7 linked regions of the Homo sapiens genome follow. The protein of the gene in region 1 interacts with the protein of each later gene in a biochemical or structural test. Each region holds a gene or a part of one and is shown on either strand. Other genes may lie near its edges.

Region 1 (3,500 bases):
AGGAACCCTTTCCCCTGCCACTTCCCCTTCTTATGGAAGCCAAGGAAAAATTAAAAAGTAAATGACTTCCCCTTTAATAACCCATCAGGAGGAAGCTAGGAGAAAAGCAGAGGCAGAGCTACAGGCAAAGTTACAAAAGGGTCTAGGGACCGGAATACAGCCATCAGCCAGGATCAGGAGCAGACAACCGAATCTAAATACTGGAATTTTCAGACTACTTCTTTGTCTCCAAGTACAGTAGAATTATAGTTGCATGAAAAAAGGTTAATCTGAAATCTTATACTTACCTTTTCATTAGGTACACATTTACCCCAGTACCAAAGCCAAGCTTCTGCATAAACGGAGAGGCCGGGATATTTATAGTTGGAGTTGAACATAATACTAAATGTCAGAGAAATAAAAAATAAAATTAATAAAAAATAAAAATAAAGCATCTTAACATTCTCAATATACTACTGCCAAGAGTATTAATTGGCACAGTCTTTTTGGAGAGCAATTTGACAACATATATCCTAATTTTAAATGGGTATCTTTTGACCAAGCCTACTTTTGGAGTTTTATCCTACAGTAACTCTGAAGCAGAGATTGGGAAATGGCCTGTTTTTGTATGGCCTACAAGCTAAGAACTGTTTTCACATTTTTAAAACATTGTTAAAAGATAAAGGGGTTGGATGTGGTGGCTCATGCCTATAATCTCAACGCTTTTGGAGTCCGGGGCAGGAGGGTCACTTGAGCCCAGTAGAGACCAGCTTGGGCAACATAAAGAGACTCCATCTCTACACACGAAAAAATTTTTTTAATTAGCCAGGAATGATGGCACACACCTGTGGTCTCAGCTACTTGGGAGAAACACTTGAGCCCAGGAGGTTAAGGGTGCAGGTGCAGTGAGCTGTGTTCAGCCTGGGTGACAGAGCAAGACACAGTCTCAAAAAAAAAAAAAAAAAAAAAAAAAGATGAAAAGATGGAGTTCTGCTTCTGCTCATGAAAAATAATTAACTACTCCTGGACAATTAACTGCTCCTAGAGTTACCATCTCGCCATTAACTAGAAAACTAGACAAAATATAATTGTTTTCAGACACTTGACAACAGGCAGAGCAGTGTTGTGATGCCTGAGAGAAGAGAAACAAATGAGGTGGGCCCTATCACTGCCCTAACTTACTGCTTGAAGGCAGTTTCCAGACTGCAGGACAGAGGTCACATAATCCAGAAGTCCTGTCACATTGAAGAGACAGAGATCAGAGGTCAAGAAGGACTAGGCGGCTAGAATTTGTGGAGCAGAGAACTAGAGAGCTCCAAAGAGAGCACTCCAAAGATCTGAACAGTTTCTCTTTGAGTGTTTGGCCAAGTACTTATCCGCACATAACAATGTGTAGATGCCCCAAAGCTGGGAAAGCACCAGAGGAAAGCAATTGGCTCAACAATTACCAGAGATCATACAAGTCTAGGAACACTTCATATCACCATGAGCTAGAGGATGGTAACCCTGTAACACATAGTAAAGTCCTCTAAAGGGTCACAACTAGATAGTACAGCTAAAGTTTAGCCCCAGATAAACATTCAAAACAAAGCTTAAAAGCCAGTCTCAAAAGGAACAGGCTAATGTGCAGGTAACTTAACCTCAGACCATAACTAAATCAAACACTCTTTAAAGGAATAACAAAATCCAGTACTAGACAATGCAAAATATCTACTGCCCAATCAAAAAGTACCAGGCATGAAAGCAGCAAGAAAATATGACCAATATAGGAGAAAAATAAATCAATAGAGGCCTAGCGCGGTGGCTCACGCCTGTAATCCCAGCACTTTGGGAGGCCGAGGCAGGCAGATCACTAGGTCAGGAGTTCGAGACCAGCCTGGCCAACATGGTGAAACCCCGTCTCTACTAAAGAGGCAAAAAATTAGCCAGGTGTGGTGGCACGTGCCTGTAATCCCAGCTACTCGGGAGGCTGAGGCAGGAGAATGGCGTGAACCCAGGAGGCGGAGGTTACAGTGAGCTGAGATAGCGCCATTGCACTCCAGCCTGGGCGACAGGGCACAAGACTCCATCTCAAAAAATTAAAAAATCAATCAATCAATAGAAACATACCATAAGATGACAGGAGGCCAAGAGTGGTGGCTCACGCCTGTAATCCCAGCACTTTGGGAGGCTGAGGCAGGTGGATCACTTGAGGCCAGGAGTTCAAGACCAGCCTGGCCAACATGGCGAAACCCTGTCTCTACTAAAAATACAAAAATTAGCTGGGCGTGGTAGCACGTGCCTGTAATCCCGACTACTCGGGAGGCTGAGGCAGGATAATTGCTTGAACCCAGGAGGTGGAGGTTGCAGTGAGCTGAGATCGCACCATTGCACTCCGGCCTGGGTGACAGAGCAAGATTCTGTCTCAAGAAAAAAAAAAAAAAAAAAAATGACAGGAATGGCAAAATTAGCAGATAAGAACCTTAAGACAAATCTTAAAAATGTGCTCAATGATACAAAGGAAAATCTGAGCATAACGGAAAAAAAAAGACAAAATAGAAGCTTAGGAATGAAAAATACAATGGATAAGAATAACATCATCTTAGAGCAGAAGAATAACTAAATCTTAAGACAGAGCAACAAAAACTATCAAAAATGAAGCAAAGAGAGAAAAAGGTTAGAAAAAAATCATCAATGAGCTATGGGACAATAGCAAAACAGCCGATTTACATCCAACAATAGACAATTACATTGAGTATAAATGGTCTAAACAGAGCTGTCCAATACATCATGCTGCCATGTGGAAATGTCTATATCTGTGCTGTCTGAGCGCTGAGCACTTAAAATGTGACTAATACAACTGAGGAACTCAATTTGTAATTTTATTTAATTCTAATTAATTTGTATCCAAATTTAAATAACCACATTTAATAATCCAAATTTAAATAACCAAATTTAAATAGCCACATGTAGCTAATGGCAAAACAGTCCAGTTAAAGGAAATTAAAGTTGTCAGAACGGATAAAAACAAGACGAGACATGCCATTTATAATAAACTCAATTTAAATATAAAGACGCAAATAGGGCAAGAGTAAAGGGTTGAAAAACATCATTAAAACACAAATCAAAATAAATCTGGAGTGGCTCCATTACTATCACATAAAGTGGACTCCAGAACAAAGAGTACCACTGAGGATTAAGAAGGGTATTTCGTAACAGTTAAGGTATAAATTCATCAAAAGAAATAACCATCCTAGGCCAGGCATGGTAATCCCAACACTTTGGGATCTGACTTGTGGTTTATGTGTCTTGGTGAATGTTGCATGCACTTGAAAGGGAGGCCAAGGAGAGTGGATCACTTGAGGCCAGGAGTTTGAGACCAGCCTGCCCAACATGGCGAAAACCTGTCTCTACTGAAAATACAAAAATTAGCCGGCCATGGTGGTGCACGCCTGTAATCCCAGCTACTCCAGAGGCCAAGGCACCAGAATCACTTGAGCCCAGGAGGTAGAGGTTGCAGTGAGCCGAGATCACACTGTTGT
Region 2 (3,500 bases), on another chromosome or scaffold:
CCCATTAAAAGGCTGAAGCAATCCTGAGCCCCCAGAAGATTCCCAAGGAGCACTGTCTTCGCCATCCCTTGTGTGGCTGAGCCCATCTGTCCCTGCCCTTCCATGCCTACCCACCTGGGGCTCAATGTCAAGGATGGCAATCTTGTTCTGCTTATGGATCTGGTGCACTGTTTCAAATTTGGTGCCAAACATGTTGCCTTGGTAGCTGCCAAACTCCAAGAACTCATTGGCAGAGATGTTCCTCGTCATCTCCTCCGTTGAGATAAAGTGGTACTCCTTCCCATCTTCCTCACTCTTCCTTGGCGGCCGTGTTGTATCTGTGTACAAGAACCCAAATCCCCGACAAACTCCAGGTCCTCACCCTTTCATGAGGGCTTGGACCATGGTGTCTGTATGGAAACCCTAGCTGCCTTTGGTGCATTGACTTTAATACAGGGGTTCCTCCCGTGGGCTCCTGAAGAGCTGATGCTAGAAAGTGATGCACACCAGGAAATCCCTCCATCTGCCCAGGACACATTTAATTTTTAAGGGGCAAAGCCTAACATAGAAAATTCCTATTATCATTTTCCCTAAATGAAGTTACATCTCTCAAACTACCAAATCTAGGAATATTGAAACTTAGAAATGAAGATAGCGGAAAATATTTTAAAAACAGATCTACAGACTATGGTCAGGATTTCTTGGAAATATATTTAAGGTTTCCTTTTCATGACTTGGAAAGAAGAGTACTTTGGTTTAGTTTCAGCTCATGTTGTTAAAAGTTGGACTATTTTCTATTACTCATATAAATTGTCTAATCAGTAAAATATGCTCCAGATATTGTAGCTTGAAACACAATCCTCCCAACCTCCCCTCTTTCCATCTTCCATTGACTGTCTCCTTTGCCTTCCGGATCACACTTGTCTCTCAACTGGCCCCTTCCCCTCAATCTACAACCACATGTGATTCTCTTGAAGGAGGAGCCTGTACTGGTTATTTCTGCTTCCCCACTCACTCCTGGGGCCATCTCTTTCTGCTCCTAATGTGACACTGGAATAACTCTTATGTCCCTCCAGCAACGAGACAACTCTCAATGATCCATGTGTAAAAAAGCAAAATGAAGAAAGAATTAAAAAATAGTAATATGAGGTTTAGAATCTGGTTTTCTATTTTGCTTAGCAGTACAGTAATTCCTCACTTAATATTATTATCAGTAGGTTCTTAGAAAATGTGACTTTAAGTGAAATCACATGCAGCTGGTCGTTGACTAACATGGTTTAGTTCAACTTCATTTCATTGTATTGTTGATGAGTAAAAAAACTGGTTCTTGTTATATGTCATTTCACTTAAAGTCACAGTCTTCGAAGAGCCTATTGACAATATTAAGTGAGGAATCACCGTATTTCTTTCTGGGAACATACACAACTATACCATGCAGCATCACTTCTGGGAATGGAAGAGTTATCAAATTCTCCACCTGATCACTGGCGCTACTCTTCTCCATATCTAGGACTGCTGTTGAGATCGTTTGGGCCTTTCCTAGGCACTGCTTTGATTTAGAAGACATTCCATGAAAATGAGAGGCAGCCTGAACATCAAGAGTGGGATAGTTCTCAAAGAGAATTAGGCAAATTGCAGAGGAACATGAGAAAATGTTTAAAAAGTAAAATGACAAAGTTATATGTATAAACTTTAATACTTAGTAATTTTTAAGGCAGTATCAAAATGTTTACTATAGCTTCTGTTATGTAGACAAACAGCACGAATAACAATAAGAAAACAGTTATTCTGTTAGGTGGAGGAATTGTGGGCACAAATTTTTATCTTTCCATATTTTGTTTAGTTTTAATAATCATTTAAAATAAAATAATTTAAAAAATAATAAAATAACACTATGGTATTTCAGATGGCGAGTGGTACCAGCCTGTCACCTCCCCTCCAAGGTGCCTAAGAGCTACTTACATGGGACAGGGTACACAAACTTCTCCGGATTCTGGCTGAGCAGGGCATTCTTAATGTGGCTGCGACCCACCCCACTGGCTCCTGTGTAGAGAGAGAAGAACATCTTTTGGAAAGGGGGGAGAGGAGCGAGGATAAGATACGGATTTTCCTCTCTCGGCACTCAAAACTGCCAACAGGTGAACATGAGTTGGGGTTGCATCTGGGCTGGGGTCAACTCTAAAGACAGGAAGGTGAGCAGTCCGCCAGAGGCAAAGCCTACATACCTGGGTTTGAAGCAAGGACTTACTCTGTTTCAGGTCAGAGTCACTGCTTGGGGGAAGGGAGATTTACAAAGCGTATCACTGCCAGCAGACAGCATGAAACCTAACCAAAAATAATTCGTTGCTAAATAGTAGAGAAACTTGTAAGGTTTAGTTTCATTTGTGAGGTGGACCCAGGTGGGGTGCACGTGAGGATTCAGAAAATTCCTTACACCTGCTCTATATGGAGAACCCAAGAGACCTCAGTTCTTTTCTTCCTCACTGCCTTTTTTGGGGGTGGGCACGTGATGCAGGCAGGAAAACAAAGACAGAAATGTGCAAATGGGGCAATGAGAAGATACCGATCAGCACCAGGGTCTTCCTCTTGAATGCAGGGAGCCGAACGACTTCCTCGTAGGAAACAACATCCAACTGATCAAAAACTAGAGACAAAGAAAACCAAGCAGTGTTCATTTCCAGAGCTAGGGAGAACAGTGGTCCACACTCTGAAATGGGAAACAGCCTCGCGACATCTCAACAAGCAGGGAGGAAGTGACTAGAGATGAGACGAGGGAGGTTGGTGTGGAGGAAGGACTTTGGACTGTATTTTTAGTGTGGTGAGGGAATTTTGAGCAAGGGAGTTTATCTAACTTTTGCACCCTCTCTTCCTCCTTGCCCTATCTCTCTGAGCCAACTTTTCTTGTCTCCTGTCCTCATCTCTTCTCCATAGTTTCAGTATCAGATGTTCCCTTGGCACTTAGAGCTGAAGAATGCCAATGCTATCTCGGTTCTGCCTGAATGTCCCTTATCTTAGAAGATGGTGGTGCTATTGACCCAGCTGCTCAAGATAGAGACCTGGTGTCATCCTGACTCTCCACCCCCTTACCTGCCTACAACCCAAGACTGCCACGATCATTCCCTGGCTGGTGGTGTGCACGTGACGTCTCAGAAAAGAGAAATGCAGATGGAAAGCTGACCGTGCGAATTCTCTGCTCAAAACCCTTCACCAGCTCCACAGTCTATAGTGCAAAATTTAAAACGCTAGGGAGGGTGCACGAAGCTCCCTATGACCTGGCCCTGGCCTCTCCCTCTGGCCTGTGTTCTTGCCTCACTTCCCCTCTCCCACCACATCTACTTCTGTGTGAGGGGTGGGGTGATGAGCAGGTGTGGGCTCACCACTAGTCCTCCTTTACATCCACTGGCCTGACTGCAGCAAGCTTGTGAAGATGGATTCAATAAAAAGAAACCAGAAGAAATGACATGCTTTCTGTAGAATGCGCCTTCTGCTGCGCACTGCACCACCTCCCCTTTTCTGCTGGT
Region 3 (3,500 bases), on another chromosome or scaffold:
TGTTGGCCAGGCTGGTCTCGAACTCCTGACCTCAAGTGATCTGCCCGCCTTGGTCTTCCAAAGTGCTGGGGATTACAGGCATGAGCCACTGCGCCCGGCCTTGAGTGCAGAATTTAAGGGGGCACTGGAAAACTCAATAATCATGAAAAAAAATGACATTTAAATGCAATATTAAAAAAATTAATACAGGTAAAATATATGGTGAACAAAGTTGGAACTTTGGCCTCCTCCCAAAGGAAGGGAGGAAGGCTTGGGAAGGGCAAGAAGTTGCCCTAGGCTCGGGGAGAACAGAAGCACCAAGGTGGTTTCTCCTTATGCACCTGCTGGTGGGGCAGAACTGAGTCTTCCCCAAGCCCATCTGTAGAGCTCACCACTTAAAACCATGGAGCCTCCTAATCTCAGCCCCATCTCATGTGCTGCCAGGTGGACATCTGTGTGCATCGGTTCCCAGCGATGAATAGTCCCAGCTCTGAGGGGGGAAGCCTAAGTCTGAGCCATGGCAGCATGATAGGGCTATTGAGAGTTCAGGCTGCATTCACATATACCCTCTTGTTGTTCCCCATAAGCCAGCCAAGTACCCCAAACCATCTCTCATATTGTATTATTCAGCAGTGGGTAATCTGTATTTATGAGGGCTACCGGATAGCTGTGGCTCTGCTGGGCTTGGCAGGGCTGGACCAGGCCCCGAGTCCTCTCATTCAAGCCCAGGGAAGGGAGAGGCACTCTGGTGCTTGCTGTTTTCATGGCAGAGGCAATACCTCTGTGGGAACAGGGCCAAACCACACAAGTGCCCTTAGTGCTTTTGCCTGTATAAGGCTCACATCTGCTCACGTTGGCTAAAGTCAGGATGGGGAAGTCTACTCCATCGAGAGCAGGGTTTCTCAGCCTTGGTGCTATTGACATTTTGGGCCATATGAGTCCTTGTTGTGGGGCTGCCCTGTGTATTTTGGGATGTTCAGCAGCATCCCTGACCTCTGCCCACTAGACGCCAGTGGCATCCCCTTTCACTGTGACAATCGAAACTGCTCTCTAGGAGACAAAACTGCCCCCAGTAGGGAACCACTGACTGGAGGTAAGCATGGCAAGAGAGGGGCGGGGTAATTGTGGTCAAAATACAGTCAACCATGTATTCTAAATGCCCCTTGTTGCCAGGCACAGTGGCTACTGGAGAAGCTCTGGTGGGAGGATCGCTGGAGGGCAGGACTTTGAGACACAACATAGCGAGATGCTATCTCTAATCAGTAAAAATAAACAATTAATAAATGTCCATTGTGTGAACATGTGTCTCAATTTTTGGTTCGGAAGGATTGGTCAGCATACAGGGACTCACTTTCTGAAAGAACAAGAGAGCTAAGGCCCTTGTCTGTCAGCCCCGCGATTGCCCGACGTGACTGCAGTCATGGGGTGACCCTCTCTTCATCCCCTCACCTGGCACAGGAAGCTGTTTCTTTGCTCTTGTCCAGTGGTTCTTGGATCAGTGGCGCCTGGGAACTTGTTGGAAATGCAGTCTTAGGCCCCATCCTGGGCCTTCTGGCTCAGAAACTCTGGGGGTGGGGCCCAGCAATCTGTGTGTTAACAAGGCCTCCAGGTGATTTTTACCATTATTAATAGCTACCATGGTACAGGGCTTTGTTACCTAAGATGTGATGAGTGGGGCCTTAGGCAGCTCAGCATCTAGCTACTAGGGGCTTATTTTACACGCACCAGGCTGACTACAGAAAGGCTCCTTCCTCTGCTCTGTAGGAGATGATTGTTATCTGCCTGCTGTAGCATGCTGTATTCTGATGGTTTTGTTCTATCTGTGATGTGGATTTCTTTTCTAAGAACTTTATTTATTTTTAAATTTCCAACATTTAAGTTCAGGGGTACATGTGTAGGATGCACAGGTTTGTTACATAGGTAATGACGTGCCATGGTGGTTTGCTGCACAGATCATCCCATCACCTAGATATTAAGCCCAGCATCCATCAGCCATTCTTCCAGATGTTCTCCTTCCCCCACTCCCCACCATCTGACAGGCCCTAGTGTGTCTTGTCCCTCCACCATGTGTCCATCTGTTCTCATCATTCAGCTCCCACTTACAAGTGAGAATATGTGGTATTTGGTTTTGTGTTCCTGCATTAGTTTGCTGAGGGTAATGGCTTCCAGTTCCATCCATGTCCCTGCAAAGGACAAGATCTCGTTCCTTTTTATGGCTGCATAGTATTCCCTGGTGTATACGTACCACATTTTCTTTATCCAGTCTATCATTGATGGGAATTTAGGTTGATTCCATGTCTTTGCTATCATGAATAGTGAGTGCTGTGATGAACGTAAGAGTGCATGTATTTTCATGATAGAATGATTTATATTCCTTTGGGTATACATCCAGTAATGGGATTGCTGGGCTGAATGGTATTTGTGCTTCTAGGTCTTTGAGGACTCACCACACTGTCTTCCACAATGTTTGAACTAATTTACATCCCAACAGTGTGAAAGCGTTCTTTTTTCTCCACAACCTTGCCAGCATCTGTTGTTTTTTTACTTTTTAATAATAGCCATTCAGACTGGCGTGAGTCGGTATCTCATTGTGGTTTTGATTTGTATTTCTCTAATGATCAGTGATGTCGAGCTTTTTTTCATGTTTGTTGGCCGCATGTATGTCTTTTGAAAACTGTCTGTTCATGTTCTTTGCCCACTTTTTAATGGGGTTATTTTTTTCTTTTATTGAGATGGAGTCTCGCTCTGTTGCCCAGGCTGGAGTGCAGTGGCACAATCTCAGCCCATTGCAACCTCCGCCTCCTGGGTTCAAGTGATTCTCTTGCCTCAGCCTCCTGAGTAGCTGGAACTATAGGTGCATGCCACCACACCTGGCTAATTTTTGTAATTTTAGTAGAGAGGGGGTTTGGCTATGTTGGCCAGGCTATTCTCAAATTCCTGACCTCAGGTGATCCACCCACCTCGGCCTCCCAAAGTGTTGGGATTACAGAAGTGAGCTACTGTGCCCGGCTTATTTTTTTCTTGTAAATTTGTTTTAAGTTCCTTGCAGATGCTGGATATTAGACCTTTGTCAGATGGATAGATTGCAAAAATTTTCTCGCATTCTGTGGGTTGTCTCTTCATTTTGATGATAGTTTCTTTTGCTGTGCAGAAGCTCTTTAGTTTAATTAGATCCCATTTGTCAATTTTTGCTTTTGTTACAATTGCTTTTCGGGTTTTCATCATGAAATCTTTGCCCATGCCCATGTCCTGAATGGTATTGCCTAGATTTTCTTGTAGTGTTTTTATAGTTTTGGGCTTTACATTTAAGTCTTTAATCCATCTTGAGCTGATTTTTATATATGGTGTAAAGAAGGGATCCAGTTTCAATTTTCTGCATATGGCTAGCCAGGTCTCCCAGCACCATTTATTAAATAGGGAATCCTTTCTTCATTGCTTGTTTTTGTCAGGTTTGTCAAAGATCAGATGGTTGTGGGTGTGTGGTCTCGTTTCTGGGTTCTCTGTTCTCTGTTCTTCTACCA
Region 4 (3,500 bases), on another chromosome or scaffold:
CCCAAGTGTAGTTTTAAAGTGCTGACTAGTGTTTCTAAGTGCAAGAAGGATGTGATATACCTCATGGAGAAAATATGTGTGTTAGATAAGCTTCCTTGAGGCATGAGTTATAGTGCTGTTGACTATGAGTTAAATGTTAATGAATCAGCACTATATATTAAATAAAGTGTCTTTAAACAGAAACAACAGTATGTATTGATCAGCTAATTAAAATGTTGTGACTTTTGGCCTGGGGGAACCTAACCCTGTATTTTCCCTAGAAGCAATGATTAAATAGTCTCTAATTTAGCATGTACAAAGACTTTCTAGAGCATGACAACATCGAATGGTGAGAATTAACTCAACTGACATATACAGTGATATATTTGGGCTTAAAAATAATTTGGAGGTTAGTATTTAGCTAAGATTGGCCACTAGTTGATAGCTCTTGAAACTGCGTAAGAGGTATGGGGGGACTCTTTTATACTATTCTCTCTACTTTTGTATAAATTTAAAAATGACTATTAAAAATGTCATTTGCATAATTTCCTTTTCTATGAATTGTCTTTGCATGTCCTTCATCCATTATTTTCATTGTTCTTTTTTTTTTTTTTAGACGGGTCTTGTTCTGTCACCCAGTGACAGTCATGTGATCATGGCTCACTGCAGCCTCAACCTCTCAGGCTCAAGCAATTCTCCCACCTCAGTCTCCTGAGTAGCTGGGACAACAGGCATGCACCACCATGACTGCTAATTTTTATATTTTTATATTTTTATTTTTATTCGAGAAATGGGGTCTCAATATGTTGCCGAGGCTTACTTTTCTTATTCATTTATGAAGCTCTTTGTATATTAAATAAGCTTTTTCTAGTATTTAAAAAATTCCATTTGTCATTTGATTTTAGTAGTTTTTAAGCATACCAAAAATAACAAATTTTACCTTGTCAAATTCATCTCTTTAAGCTTAGACATGTATCTAAGCTTAAAAAACCTCCCCTTGAGATTTTAAACAATTTTCACATATTTCCTTCAAATAATTTCATAATTCCACTTTAAAAATTACATTTTGATATATTTGAAATACATGTTGGCATCAAGAGTGAGTAGAGGTAAAGTATTTATAGATGAACGATATGATATAAAGATCTGCTTCAAAAGAACCTGGTAAAGGTGAAACCAAGTTTGTCATCAGTTGACAAGTGCTGAAACTGAGTGATGTGTACATGAAGGTTGATTTTACGGTTTGCTTTAATTTTGTACATTTGAAATTTTCTAATTACAGAGTTAAGAAAAAAATAGTAATTTTTTTTTCCAGGTAAGAAAAAAAAATGCCTCTTTACAATGACGTATTCTAGACTAGTGGTCCCCAACCTTTTTGGCACCAGGGACTGGTTTCTTGGAAGACAATTTTTCCATGGAGTGGGGTTGGGAGGGTGGGAGGTGGGGATGGTTACAGGATGAAACTGTTCCACCACAGATCATCAGGCATTAGATTTTCATAATGAGCATGCAACCTAGACAATTACTGGTCCATGGCCCAGGGGTTGGGGGCTCCTGTTCTAGACAGTTGACCCAACCACCCATTCACTGGATAGTCTATCTCCAATGATCTAAAAGGCCACCTCTACCATAAACAAAATTCTAGTATCTAAGTCTATTTATGAACTGGACTATTCCATTCCACTGCTCTACCTGTATTAATACACAAGTACCAAAATATTTTCTTTAATATTACTTCAATAATATTTTTCATAGCTGAAAGTTTTAATATTCTATCCAGGTCAGGATTTTAACAAAAAGAACCTCAAAGTTCATAGTGGCTCGTATTTTTCCAAATGGCAAAGGCATAATAAGAATAAACTTACATTTATATAGTTCGCATTGATGTAGTCTTCATTACCTTTTAAAATGACCCGTGTGGCATCATCTAAAAAAATTTAAAAGAAATAATGTTTTAGTAAAGTTATGTTTAAAAGATTAAATTTAACAGAGACAATAAGATACTTACAAGGCGAAATATCTCTGTATCTATTTTTGGAAATATTCTGAGGTAATTTGGCACAGGACATTGTCATTCCAGGTTTTTTCCGATACAGTTGCTAAAAAAAAAAAAAAAAGGTACAATTCCAACAAAAGCCATAAACAATTTCTCTTTTGTTTACCAGACTTGTTTCTACACTAACAGGAAACAGGTTTCTTTGCCTTTGAATAGGTCATCTATACAATGATATACCATAGTCTAGTAGAGTACTGAACCAGATTTGCAAAGCTGAATTCTTCAGTTTCTAACATAAATTATGTGTCATATTTTGAAAAGTGGTAAAACTAGTGAAACCAATTCTGCTTACAGCAGGAGCACCTGAAGTTGTGAGTAGCAAATCTGCAGAAAACATTTAACTTTCATTTAGTTTGGAGGTGTTTACAGTCTATGAACTAAGAACTTTTGAACAAAAACAGACATATCCTAAATGTTTTATAGTTAAACACTTACCTATAACATATATGTCAGAACAACAAATATTAATGATGGTCATTTCTAAAAACACATTAAAAACTATCCAGGGAGCCTAGCATGGCTGTGCATGCCTGTAATTCCAGCTACTTGAGAGGCTGAGGCTGGAGGATTGTTTGGACATAGGAATTTGAGATCAGCCTAGGCAACATAGTGAGAGGCCGCTTCTCAAAAAAAAAAAAAAAAAAAAAAATTCAGGTTTATTAATTTAAACAAATTAGGTTGATATAGTCTGAATAAAACATTTCAAAATCCACTGGGTGATCGTGGGTCAAAATGCACATTATAAGCACTGAAGAAGCATTCTAGTTCATTGGATATAATGATCTGTCTGAAAGTTTTGGTTTTTCCAGTTTTCAAGATTGCACCAATGAAAAATAAACAAAGATTAAATGACAAGGTATAAACTTCAAAAATAAAAGTTATTTTCCTTTAGCTCAGGATTTTATTTATTTATTTATTTATTTATTTATTTATTTATTTATTATTTTTTTGAGATGGAGTCTCACTCTGTCGCCCAGGCTGGAGTGCAGTGGCGCGATCTCAGCTCACTGCAAGCTCTGCCTCCCAGGTTCACGCCATTCTCCTGCCTCAGCCTCCTGAGTAGCTGGGACTACAGGCACCTGCCACCACACCCGGCTAATTTTTTGTATTTTTAGTAGAGACGGGGTTTCACCGTGTTGGCCAGGATTGTCTTGATCTCCTGACCTTGTGATCCGCCCGCCTCGGCCTCCCAAAGTGCTGGGATTACAGGCGTGAGCCACCACACCTGGCCAAGCTCAGGATTTTAAAGTATATAATAGCCTATCTTCATCTGCCACCTTTCAAAAAAACAGCTATTTAACTATAGAAAAAAATTTAGTTTGATGACATATGTATAAAATTTCCTTATCCCTCTTTTTAAAACATATTCTATTTATATAACCATAGCTAGTATTTTGGGAGCAATTTTTAAAACTTGGCATTTTAGAACTCTTTATGTCAAACATTTCTCAGAATATCATTTTAG
Region 5 (3,500 bases), on another chromosome or scaffold:
TGGTTTCATGCAGAATCTAGCTCAGGGATTGTGAGAGTGAAATGAGATCGTGCAGCTAAGTGTTAGCAATGCTTAATACTGCCTACGAAAGAAAATATCTTTACGCACTGAGAGCCATAGCTCTGGAGTAACATGGTCCCTGAATCCCCACTTAGGAGAAACAGGTGACCTGGACAAGGAACTCAATCTCACTGACCCTCATTAAGTAAATTTAATTTTTTTTTTTTTTTTAGAGGTAGGGTCTCACTCTGTTACCCAGGTTGGCATGCAGTGGCACAATCATAGCTCACTACAGCCTCGGCCTCCTGCACTCAAGTGATCCTCCCACCTCAGCCTCCTGAGTAGCTAGGATTACGGGCACGCACCATGCCGGGCTGCTTTCGTTTTGTTGTAGAAATGGTGATATGGTTTGGATTTGTGTCCCCGCCCACATCTCATGTTCAACTGTAGTCCCCGGTGTTGGAGGAGGGGCCTGGGGGGAGGTGACTGGATCACAAGGGCAGATTTCCCCCTTCCTGTTCTCGTGATAGCGAGTGAGTTCTTATGAGATCTGGTTGTTTAAACGTGTGTAGCACCTCCCCCTACTCTCTCTTCCTCCCGCTCCAACCATGTAAGACATACCTCCTTCCTCTTCACCTTCTGCCATGATTGTAAGTTTCCTGAGGCCTCCCCAGCCATGCTTCCTGTACAGCCTGCAGAACCATGAGCCAATTAAACCTCTTTTCTTATAAATGACCCAGTTTCAGGTATTTCTTTATAGCAGTGCAAGAACGGACTAATATAGACAGCATCTCACTGTGTTGCTCAGGCTGGCCTTGAATTCCTGGCATCAACGGATCCTCCCACCTTGGCTTCCCAAAGTGCTGGAATTACAGGTGTAAGCCACTGTACCCAGCCAGAATTAAATGAATTAATATGCCCAACAGTGATAGTTATATAAGTGATAGCCATTGGCTGGCCCATAGAAAGTTCTCAACTAATGTCATATCCTTTTTTTTTGAGACAGAGTCTCACTCTGTCACCCAGGCTGGAGTACAGTGCTGCCATCTCAGCTCACTGCAACCTCCGCCTCCCGGGTTCAAGAGATTCTCCTGCCTGAGCCTCCTGAGTAGCTGGGACTACAGGCGCCCGCCACTAGGCCCAGCTAATTTTTGTATTTGTATTTATTTTATTTATTTATTTATTTAATTATTTTTTGAGACGGAGTCTCTGTCACTCAGGCTGGAGTGCAGTGGCGCGATCTCAGCTCACTGCAACCTCCACTTCCTGGGTACAAGCGATTCTCCTGCCTCAGCCTCTCAAGTAGCTGGCATTACAGGCATGTGCCACCACGCCTGGCTAATTTTTGTATTTTTAATAGAGACAGGGTTTCACCATGTTGGCCAGGCTGGTCTCGAACTCCCTACCTCAGGATCCACCCACCTCAGCCTCCCAAAGTGCTGGGATTACAGGCATGAGCCACTGCTCCCAGCCAGTTTTTGTATTTTTAGTAGAGACAAAGTTTTACCATGTTGGCCAGGCTGGTCTCAAACTCCTGACCTTAAGTGATCCACCCCGCCTTGGCCTCCCAAAGTGCTGGGATTACAGGCATGAGCCAGCATGCCCGTCATATCCTTATAGTTACACTGAAACCCGGTGACCCGAGTCACCCTGCAGGCAGATGGGCAGGATGGGTGGTTGGGAAGCATGGCGAAAGGGCAATCACCTGGCTGGAGTTTCCCGTCGTTGGCTGCAGCCCCCTTCCTGATGAGGTGGGTGATCTGGAGGTAGGGTCCATGCTGGATGATGATGAGGCCTAATCCCAGGCTACCCACAGTGAGTTTGGTCTGCTGTGTTTTGCTCAAGTTGTGTACAGATGTTTTGACCTTGTTGCTGACTCCTCTTTCTAACCAAAAGAGGGGAACTTATTTCAGTCCTTCACCAAGACAGAAGCATGGCCATACCTACTGGGGTTCTGAAGCCAGATCCCTGGGACAGTTATTTAATCCCTGTTCCTCAGATTCCTTGTCAGTAAAATGAGGATAAAAATGTTCACCTTGGAGAGCTCTTCTGAAAATTAAATGGGTGCATTAAAGGGCTTTTGCAGAGTCTGGCATATTGTGAGTGCTTAATCAATATTAGTTAGTATTATCTGTTCACTTAACAAATATTTATTGATACAGTGTGCTAGGCCCTGGGTTTACCATGGTGAGCAAAACAGATGTGTTGGGTTTTTTGGTTTTAACAGACAATGTCTCACTCTGTTGCCCAGGCTGGAGTGCAGCAGCATTATCAGGGCTCACTGCAGCCTCGATCTCCTGGGCTCAAGGGCTCCTCCCACCTCAGCCTCCTAAGTAGCTGGGACTACTGGCATGTGCTACTATACACGGCTAATTTTTATTGTTTTTGTAGAGACAGGGTCTCACTATATTGGCCAGGCTAGTCTTGAACTCCTGGACTCAAGCAATCCTCCCACCTCAGCCTCCCAAAGTGCTGGCATTACAGGTGTGAGCCACCGTGCCTGGCCCACATGTGTTTCTTGTCCTCATGAATTTTACAGCCTAGTGGAGGGGACAGATATCAATCAGTCATGTAAATATATGTTGGATAACAAACTGTAACTCATGCTATGAAAGAAAAGGACGGAGGGCTCTGAGAATGAGTAACAGAGGGCCAAAGTCTCATCTGGGGATGGCGGGTCAAGCTTCCAGCAGGGCTAAAATTTGAATTAAGGCCAAAAGGACCAATAGGAAATATTTAGGCAAAGAAAGGTGGATCCGGAGCAAATTGTGTTAAGGTCTGAGAAAGGAAGGAACAGTCCCTGTCAGAGGAGGGGGAGGCAGGAGGAGCGAGGACCAACCAGACAGAGGCTGCTTCTCAGACTTCCTTAGTGAAAAGGCTCCGAAGTGAGTAAAGCTGGACATGGTTAGATGAAATGAAATGACATGAAAATGACAGGGTCCTGGCACATGTCATGGCAGTGACAGCGGAAATGAGCAGTGGATGGATCCAAAAAGCACATGGGGGAAAATCCGAAGGCCTTGGAGACAAGGGGTAGTGGGAGAGGTTGAAATATGTTTTCTACAGAACCAAATCTCACAAGAAAAATTTCAGGGACTAAAAGGACATTCAAAACAACAAGTTAATTTCCCAAGAGGAAGTTGCTAGGAAACTCCTTTTCGGTACACAGGAAGCTCCTGGGGAGATCTGTTTTCAGCACACTTTTCCAGCATTTCACACACAACTCCTTTCCATAAGGACAGGTGACACACAAGCTTGCCAAGTCCATGTGACTGTGGTGTTTTCAGGGCCACTGCTGAGGGAGAGGCTCCCCCAGCTCCCTACCTCTGGCTGTGGGGAGCTGGAGGGGTTCATGGCCCTTTCCTCTAAAGCAAATGTCCTTGCCCATCTCCAACCTCACCTTCCCCCAAACCACAGATGCTCTCTGTTTGGGAAAATAAAATAGCATAATATAAACAAGATACCATCTTCAGAGACCTTTCAGGGTTCTGGGAGCAACT
Region 6 (3,500 bases), on another chromosome or scaffold:
TCAACCTGCTTTCTTTCAGCTGGAACAAGCTTCATGTTTTTTGGGGACCTCACATGACTTTACCTCCCCTCCCCTCTGCTGTTTAGACCAGGAGACTCACTCACCAGATGGGAAGTCAGGGGTGGAGCGGTAGCTTGGTGTTGGAGACCGGGGAGACAAGCTATGAGTGGGGGAACCTGGGAGGCTCTCACCCGATGACAGGGATCTGTTCAAGCAGGAGAAACTTCGGCTGGTGTGGAGTAAAGGAGAAGGCTGCTTGGCTAGCTTTTTGAAAAGAGATCTCCTCCTACAGAAAAACAGGAAAAAATTGTTCAGTCTTCTTTCAGAACTATTGCTGCCTCCCCAAAATACCATTGTGCTCAGCTCAATAACTCCGTGTGAGGGACAGGGATACAACAGCAGATCCTATTAAAGAGCAGAACACCACTTTCCTATTAGAAACCTTCTTATGACATGTAAAGGAAGAGTATTTAATAGTAGACAATGGAGCCTCTCTCAATTCCAAACACTTAAGAAGAGTTGGAAAAATAGGAAAAATATAAAATGCATTAAAAATACATTCATTTACTTGTTAGGTATATGAGGAGGATGCTCTTTGCTTGAAAGCTTCTGAGTACCTACCCCTAAATATGCAGACACAACTTAACTAAGAGATAATACAAAGTAAACCTCTGGAAGCAAAACCATTGTATTGGAAATCAAATTCTTTAATGGTGATAGGCTGGGCAGAGGCCAATGAAGGGCTATTTGCTGTGCTTATTCCATTGTGGGCTCTTGAATATTCCTAACAACAATGCAGGCTGTACAACGACATAGAAAAAACCGAGAAAGGTGAAGCTGAAGCGTATCGTATCAGCAGGGCAGCAGACACTGTACTGCAGCAGAAGCAAATGTGGATTTGGTACTCAATGAGCACATCTTAAGGCAAAAGCACAGCTTCTGACACCTTAGCAGGGCATCGGGCTGTGCAAAGTTCTTTTACCATATAAGCCTATATATGGTAAGATCTAACCCACTCCACATAAGCTTAAAACAAAGTTTCTGGTTGCTAGCCCTTGAAACAATTTGTTCTAAATGATTTAAAGCACAGCCAAAATATAAAGCATAATAATAAAGAAGATCTTATGTGTGTGTAATTTTAATCAGAGTAATAAATGTACTTGGGTGAAAAAGTCAAATACTTCTATAAACATACAATGAAAAACAGCAACTCCTCTACTCGAATTTTTCTCTACTCCCCAAAGAAGTCGCTTTGTATTCTTTTACCTGTTTCTTCTCCCATTTGTCTACATATTGCTAAATGTTTGTACACTGCTATTTTTTAGTTTTTCAGTTTTAGAAATTACCTGTTGATTTTCTACTATGAAAGATGATAATTAAGCTCTTATACAACCACCTTCTACCTTGCAACCAAATATATTTCCCCTTTTCTATTCTTCCCAATATAGCGAAAGCAAAATTTTTGGTTAGAAAAACGGCCGGTATTTTATCTTATATTATAAATATTGTTCACAGCTGGGCCATATGAAACATAATTCTGTTCCTTTCTTGTATAACTTTTTTTCCCCCCAGAGTTAATACATGGCTTTTCGTTTGCTTGTTTTTCTACATTTCTATCATCAAAAATCCTTTTAATATGATGTGACTCATCAGGCCCAATTGAGTAAAGAAATGCTGTGGCATTGCAAAGGAGGCACACCCAGAGAGCTGCCTGGCAAGAAACAGCCCTGCCAGAAACACATACCTCTTGCTAGTGTCTGCAAGCAGCACAAAAAGATACTGATCAGTGCTTCCCAGGCTACAAAAGTATATAAGCTAGTTCGTTTTTCAGTGAGTAAAACAAAGCCCTTTTATTTCTAGGCTTATTCGGAACCTTTAAAGGTAACAGTAATTTTAGAATATCTGGCATTTTAAAAATAGCAACTGTTTGTTTTTTGATAACGTAAAGGACATTTTAAATGTAGATTTAATGTTAAAAACCACCTGAAGATCCAGTTCCTCAATCCAACTCAACTGAAATCAAGTGAAGAGGCTTAAAAAACAGCAAAGGGCTTTTCCTGACATTCACACATGATAAAAAACAATCTGAATCCTTCCACAATGTAAATATGTAAATCCTTTTACTATGGAAGTTGATGCTATTATGAATATGGATTTTAATGTATACATATATGTGAACCATAACATAAAATTTCTCACAGAAAAATAGATCTTCTTCATATATAAGCATTTAATTAAGGGGTAACTTTTCCCCAACATAGGTATACACCAAACTTAAAAAGAATACTGATTTTACTAACCTTTCGAGACTTTCTTTCTTCTTGGATTTCTTGCTCCGCCTCACCATCCGGCTCTTATAGCTGTTTCTCCTGGCTGGTCCAGTTTTGATTGATGTGTTTTCAAATGGGGTAGTAGTGATTGACACCTTATTCCCACTCTAAAGAAAAGATGAGGTGGCATTAAAGGGAAATGCTGTGATGAAGCAAGATCAGAACAGAGATGAGAGATTCATAGACAAATACAAATAGAAAGGAACATACATATAAAAGGCCTTCTGTTTCTAAATAACCCTTCAATCAAAGAAGTCCTGCCAGAATACAAACTGGGTGGAAGGCAAAATATGAAGTTTCTTTACGAGGGTGAGTTCTGGAGTCCACAGATCTGAGTTCAAATCCAAGCACTGTGCCCTTACCAGGCTGCTACCCTCCCTACCCTCAACTTCCTGTACCAATTAACAATATAATCCTACCTATCTCCTGGGGCTCATTTGAGGATCACATGAGAGCAAGTCTGTAAAGCCTTTTGCACCCAGTGCAACACAAGGAAAGAACACTATAAATAAGATAACTACTTCTTCCACAGGTATTAAGTATTAATGTTCCCAGTGGCTGGCTGCTCTTGGTTGATTTTTCTTTTTTCTCCTTTTTGTGTTTTTCCTTTGGCCTAAAAATTGTAGAGTAACAAAACCGAATGAGACTTTTATTTTTAATTATTTTAAAAGGCTCCTTTTCTATCACCATAAAACCTATCAGTTTGCAGAGCTGGAACATTTATGCCAGCCAGTAGGAAACCTCTTTTTAACCAGGTCATACAGGGTAAGGTAATTTCTGTGAGTTTCGGTGTCCTTTCTCTCAATCCTGGGAAGGGGCTTGCTGGGCAGCCTCTAGGGATGGAACTGAGCGTGGAGTCAGCAGTCAGGCCGAGGGGGGCCCAGGGCAGGTGGGTAGTCCCTGGCATCAATTACCCTTCCTGAATTTCATAATAACCAGGGGAGAAACCTGTCCTTTCAAGGTCACAGATGGCCCCGATTACCATGAAAGTACAAGAGGTACAAGGAAAAGGATCTTTTTAAAGGCCCATGCCTGGAAGATACCTAGAGCTCAGCTCAACATGGTACCAAGTGAAGGGGAGTTGGGGGGAGTTAGGTATGGTGGCAGCAGAGGACTGAAAAGACAGGGAATGACTGTCTTAAAGATAGCATCTACCTTCCCCCTTGATTT
Region 7 (2,731 bases), on another chromosome or scaffold:
GATCACTAAGTCCAGGAGCACGAGACCAGCCTGGGCAATGTGAAACCCTCTTTCCACAAAAAAAACTAAAAAATTAGCCAAGCGTGGTGGTGCACACCTGTAGTCCTAGCTACTCAGGAGGCTGAGGTGGGAGGACTAATTGAGCCTGGGAGGTCAAGGATGCAGTGAGCTATGATCATGCCACTGCACTCCAGCCTGGGCAACAGAGAGAGACCCTGTCTCCAAAAAAAAAAAAAAAAGACAGTGTACCTAGAGCTCTGAGCACAGTGCCAGGCACATAGCAGGTGCTTAATACATAATAGCTATTGCTGGCTGCATGGACACCTCCTTGCTCTGTATGGCACTTTTTTTGGTATAGTGGATCATGTTCAGTAGTTTAGGAATGTTTTAGAAAATCGTTATTCAGAAATCCATGGGGTCGTGAGGTTCTTCAGAACTGGGTTTGTCCCAGCCAGCCACACTTCTTGAGATCGTTTGTCTTTTCAAAGTTTATTTCCACCTGTGGCCATCACTAGTCCTGTCTAGCACATCTTCTCACATTTATTTTCGAACAACCAAGAAAACACATAACCAGATAACATACATGTGTAATGTAAAGGTCAATAGGCTCTGAGTGAGGGCCAGAGGCTCTTCTATGGCCATAACGTTAGTGTTTGGACCACCTGGCACGCTTTGCGTAGAGACTTTTAATTTCTTGTTCTTCCCATGATCTAAGTGGTGTCTGCAGGCCCATCTCTTTTTATCAAACAAGCAAATGTAAGAGGATGTAAGAGGAGGAGGATCCTTATGGCCCTGGAGGCAGCAGGAGCCAGAGGGTGGATGGGTACGCCTAGTACCTCCCACAGGATGGGGAGGCATTTATGCTTTGAGGCCAGAACCCAAATGTGACTGTGGGCTTGGTGAGTCTCTGGGAGCCCTTGGAAGGGGGAGGAGAATCGCATTGATGAGGCCCTGTTACGCGTCAGGCTCACACCGCTGGCCTTCAAGCTGAGGGTGGGAAGAGGCATGCTCATTTGACCAAGGAGATCCTCAGGTGGGAGACCCATGTTCTCACTCAAGCAAGACCTTACCTGGGAGTCTGCTGGGACCCTCATCTGACAGGCTCGGGGTCCGAGGCAGCCCTGCCCTGCAGTCAGCCATCAGTGGTGTCCTCTAGCAGTGGCCATGCTGATCCCTCCACAGAGGGGCCTGTAGAGTTGCCCCTGGTCCCCAATCCTTAGGGTGATCGCTTACTTGCCTCCTCCCTAGGACAAAAAGATCATGGAGATTCTGGCCACGGCTGGGAACGTTGTCACCCTGACCATCATCCCCAGTGTGATCTACGAGCACATGGTCAAAAAGTAAGGCTGCACCCCTCCTCACCCCTCCTCACCCCTCCTCTGCCATCCCCTTCACCTCCCGGCCTCCCAGGTGCACCTGGCTCAGCCACTTCCACTTTCTCAGTGCTGACACAGGGCACAGGCTCAGCCAGCTCTATCCTCCCTTCCCCTCCCTCCAAGGTAGCTTGTGGCTTCTGGTGATTCGAAAGTCTTAGAACTGGGAGTGAAGGCCCACATGGGATGCACTGGCTCGGAAGGGGGTGGAGGTTGCTGGAGGGTGGAGAGAAGGAGCTGCCAACCTGGTCACTGTTGTTGCTGTATCCAGGTTGCCTCCAGTCCTGCTCCACCACACCATGGACCACTCCATCCCAGATGCCTGAAGCCACTGCAGGGCAGGGCAGGCAGGGGGGGCTTCCCGCCCTCCTGCAGCAAAGGGCAACCACCCTCGGATGATGGGTTGCAGCCGGCCTGCTGCTTAAGGTGGGGGCTGCCATGAGGGGGGCGTGTCCAGGAGGGTGACCATGGGATGGCTTATACACACAGGCCTCCTTGGAGCCTCAGACTCCAAGCTAGGCTGAGGCTCAGGCAGGGCCCACAGGCAGCCGATTCTCTTGTGCTGATTTAAATGCTGGACACGGAGGCAGGCTGTTTAAACGCTGCTTAAAGTCGCAACTGGGCCCCTTTCAAGAAATTTTGCTCTACCAGGAAAACAGTTACACATTTTAAGAGAACAGAGCTACGTTCTTTGTGAGAGCTTTTTCCTTGCCTTGACTTGCTCTTTGTCACAGACTGCATAAGTTGTCAGCCTTGACTATCTTTTGAATAAAGATTTGATTTTAAACAAAACCCTGTCCGCAAAGGTAATTGATTCCCCCAAAACTATTGAAAATAAAATAAAAAGGTAACTGAAAATTCTGGAATCCTTGGTCCCCTGACGTGCCAGGGCTGGTTTCCTCTTAAACCGTGGTGAGACCAGGGCCTTTTCTACGCGTGGCCTCTGAGAGCCATGATTTGGCTCTGCCTCTGTCACGTGCCACCTGCCAGCCTGGCGCGGGGATGACTGGAACTGGGGACAGGATGGAACTGTGGGGATGGGGTAGGACTGTGGGGCAGTGGGGCTGACAAAGGGAGCACTGGCTTTGGGGCACCCCCCGTGTGACCGTGGCTGCTTCTGCTTCTGCAAAGTGGGCATGAGAAGCCACTTTAGGGGGTGTTGGGGAAGGTGAGACGCGATGTGCTCATGGCGCCCAGCAGGGTGTGCCATGTGGGGGCAGGGGGAGGTGGCTCCAGACTCTGAGCCTGACCCCAAGAGGGCAGTGGTGCCTCAGCCCCACACAGCTCTCTGCTTCCCTGCACATCAGAGATGATCGCTGCCCACGTGGCTTTTTCCCGTGCGGGTGTTGTGACCCCTG

Evidence for each region.
Region 2: the proteins of PBK (region 1) and MPP1 interact in a test that uses a peptide from one of them, tested with the Homo sapiens proteins (one large-scale study listed by IntAct).
Region 3: the proteins of PBK (region 1) and PDLIM1 interact in a test that uses a peptide from one of them, tested with the Homo sapiens proteins (one large-scale study listed by IntAct).
Region 4: the proteins of PBK (region 1) and PTPN4 interact in a test that uses a peptide from one of them, tested with the Homo sapiens proteins (one large-scale study listed by IntAct).
Region 5: the proteins of PBK (region 1) and PDZD9 interact in a test that uses a peptide from one of them, tested with the Homo sapiens proteins (one large-scale study listed by IntAct).
Region 6: the proteins of PBK (region 1) and MAST4 interact in a test that uses a peptide from one of them, tested with the Homo sapiens proteins (one large-scale study listed by IntAct).
Region 7: the proteins of PBK (region 1) and SDCBP2 interact in a test that uses a peptide from one of them, tested with the Homo sapiens proteins (one large-scale study listed by IntAct).

Annotation. Positions count from the first base shown.
Region 1 is NC_000008.11:27,827,818-27,831,317, forward strand, and holds part of PBK (lymphokine-activated killer T-cell-originated protein kinase), read right to left. Parts: intron 382-3,500; coding exon 288-381; intron 1-287. UniProt on the Homo sapiens protein: Phosphorylates MAP kinase p38. Seems to be active only in mitosis. May also play a role in the activation of lymphoid cells.
Region 2 is NC_000023.11:154,781,486-154,784,985, forward strand, and holds part of MPP1 (55 kDa erythrocyte membrane protein), read right to left. Parts: intron 2,624-3,500; coding exon 2,543-2,623; intron 2,023-2,542; coding exon 1,942-2,022; intron 318-1,941; coding exon 115-317; intron 1-114. UniProt on the Homo sapiens protein: Essential regulator of neutrophil polarity. Regulates neutrophil polarization by regulating AKT1 phosphorylation through a mechanism that is independent of PIK3CG activity.
Region 3 is NC_000010.11:95,239,004-95,242,503, reverse strand, and holds part of PDLIM1 (PDZ and LIM domain protein 1), read left to right. Parts: intron 1-3,500. UniProt on the Homo sapiens protein: Cytoskeletal protein that may act as an adapter that brings other proteins (like kinases) to the cytoskeleton. Involved in assembly, disassembly and directioning of stress fibers in fibroblasts.
Region 4 is NC_000002.12:119,955,422-119,958,921, reverse strand, and holds part of PTPN4 (tyrosine-protein phosphatase non-receptor type 4), read right to left. Parts: intron 2,079-3,500; coding exon 1,988-2,078; intron 1,907-1,987; coding exon 1,845-1,906; intron 1-1,844. UniProt on the Homo sapiens protein: Phosphatase that plays a role in immunity, learning, synaptic plasticity or cell homeostasis. Regulates neuronal cell homeostasis by protecting neurons against apoptosis.
Region 5 is NC_000016.10:21,994,617-21,998,116, forward strand, and holds part of PDZD9 (PDZ domain-containing protein 9), read right to left. Parts: intron 1,886-3,500; coding exon 1,706-1,885; intron 693-1,705; exon of another isoform or gene 647-692; coding exon of another isoform or gene 622-646; intron 1-621.
Region 6 is NC_000005.10:67,159,393-67,162,892, reverse strand, and holds part of MAST4 (microtubule-associated serine/threonine-protein kinase 4), read right to left. Parts: intron 2,438-3,500; coding exon 2,301-2,437; intron 287-2,300; coding exon 105-286; intron 1-104.
Region 7 is NC_000020.11:1,309,409-1,312,139, reverse strand, and holds the end of SDCBP2 (syntenin-2), read left to right. Parts: intron 1-1,248; coding exon 1,249-1,340; intron 1,341-1,644; coding exon 1,645-1,699; 3' UTR 1,700-2,231; downstream 2,232-2,731.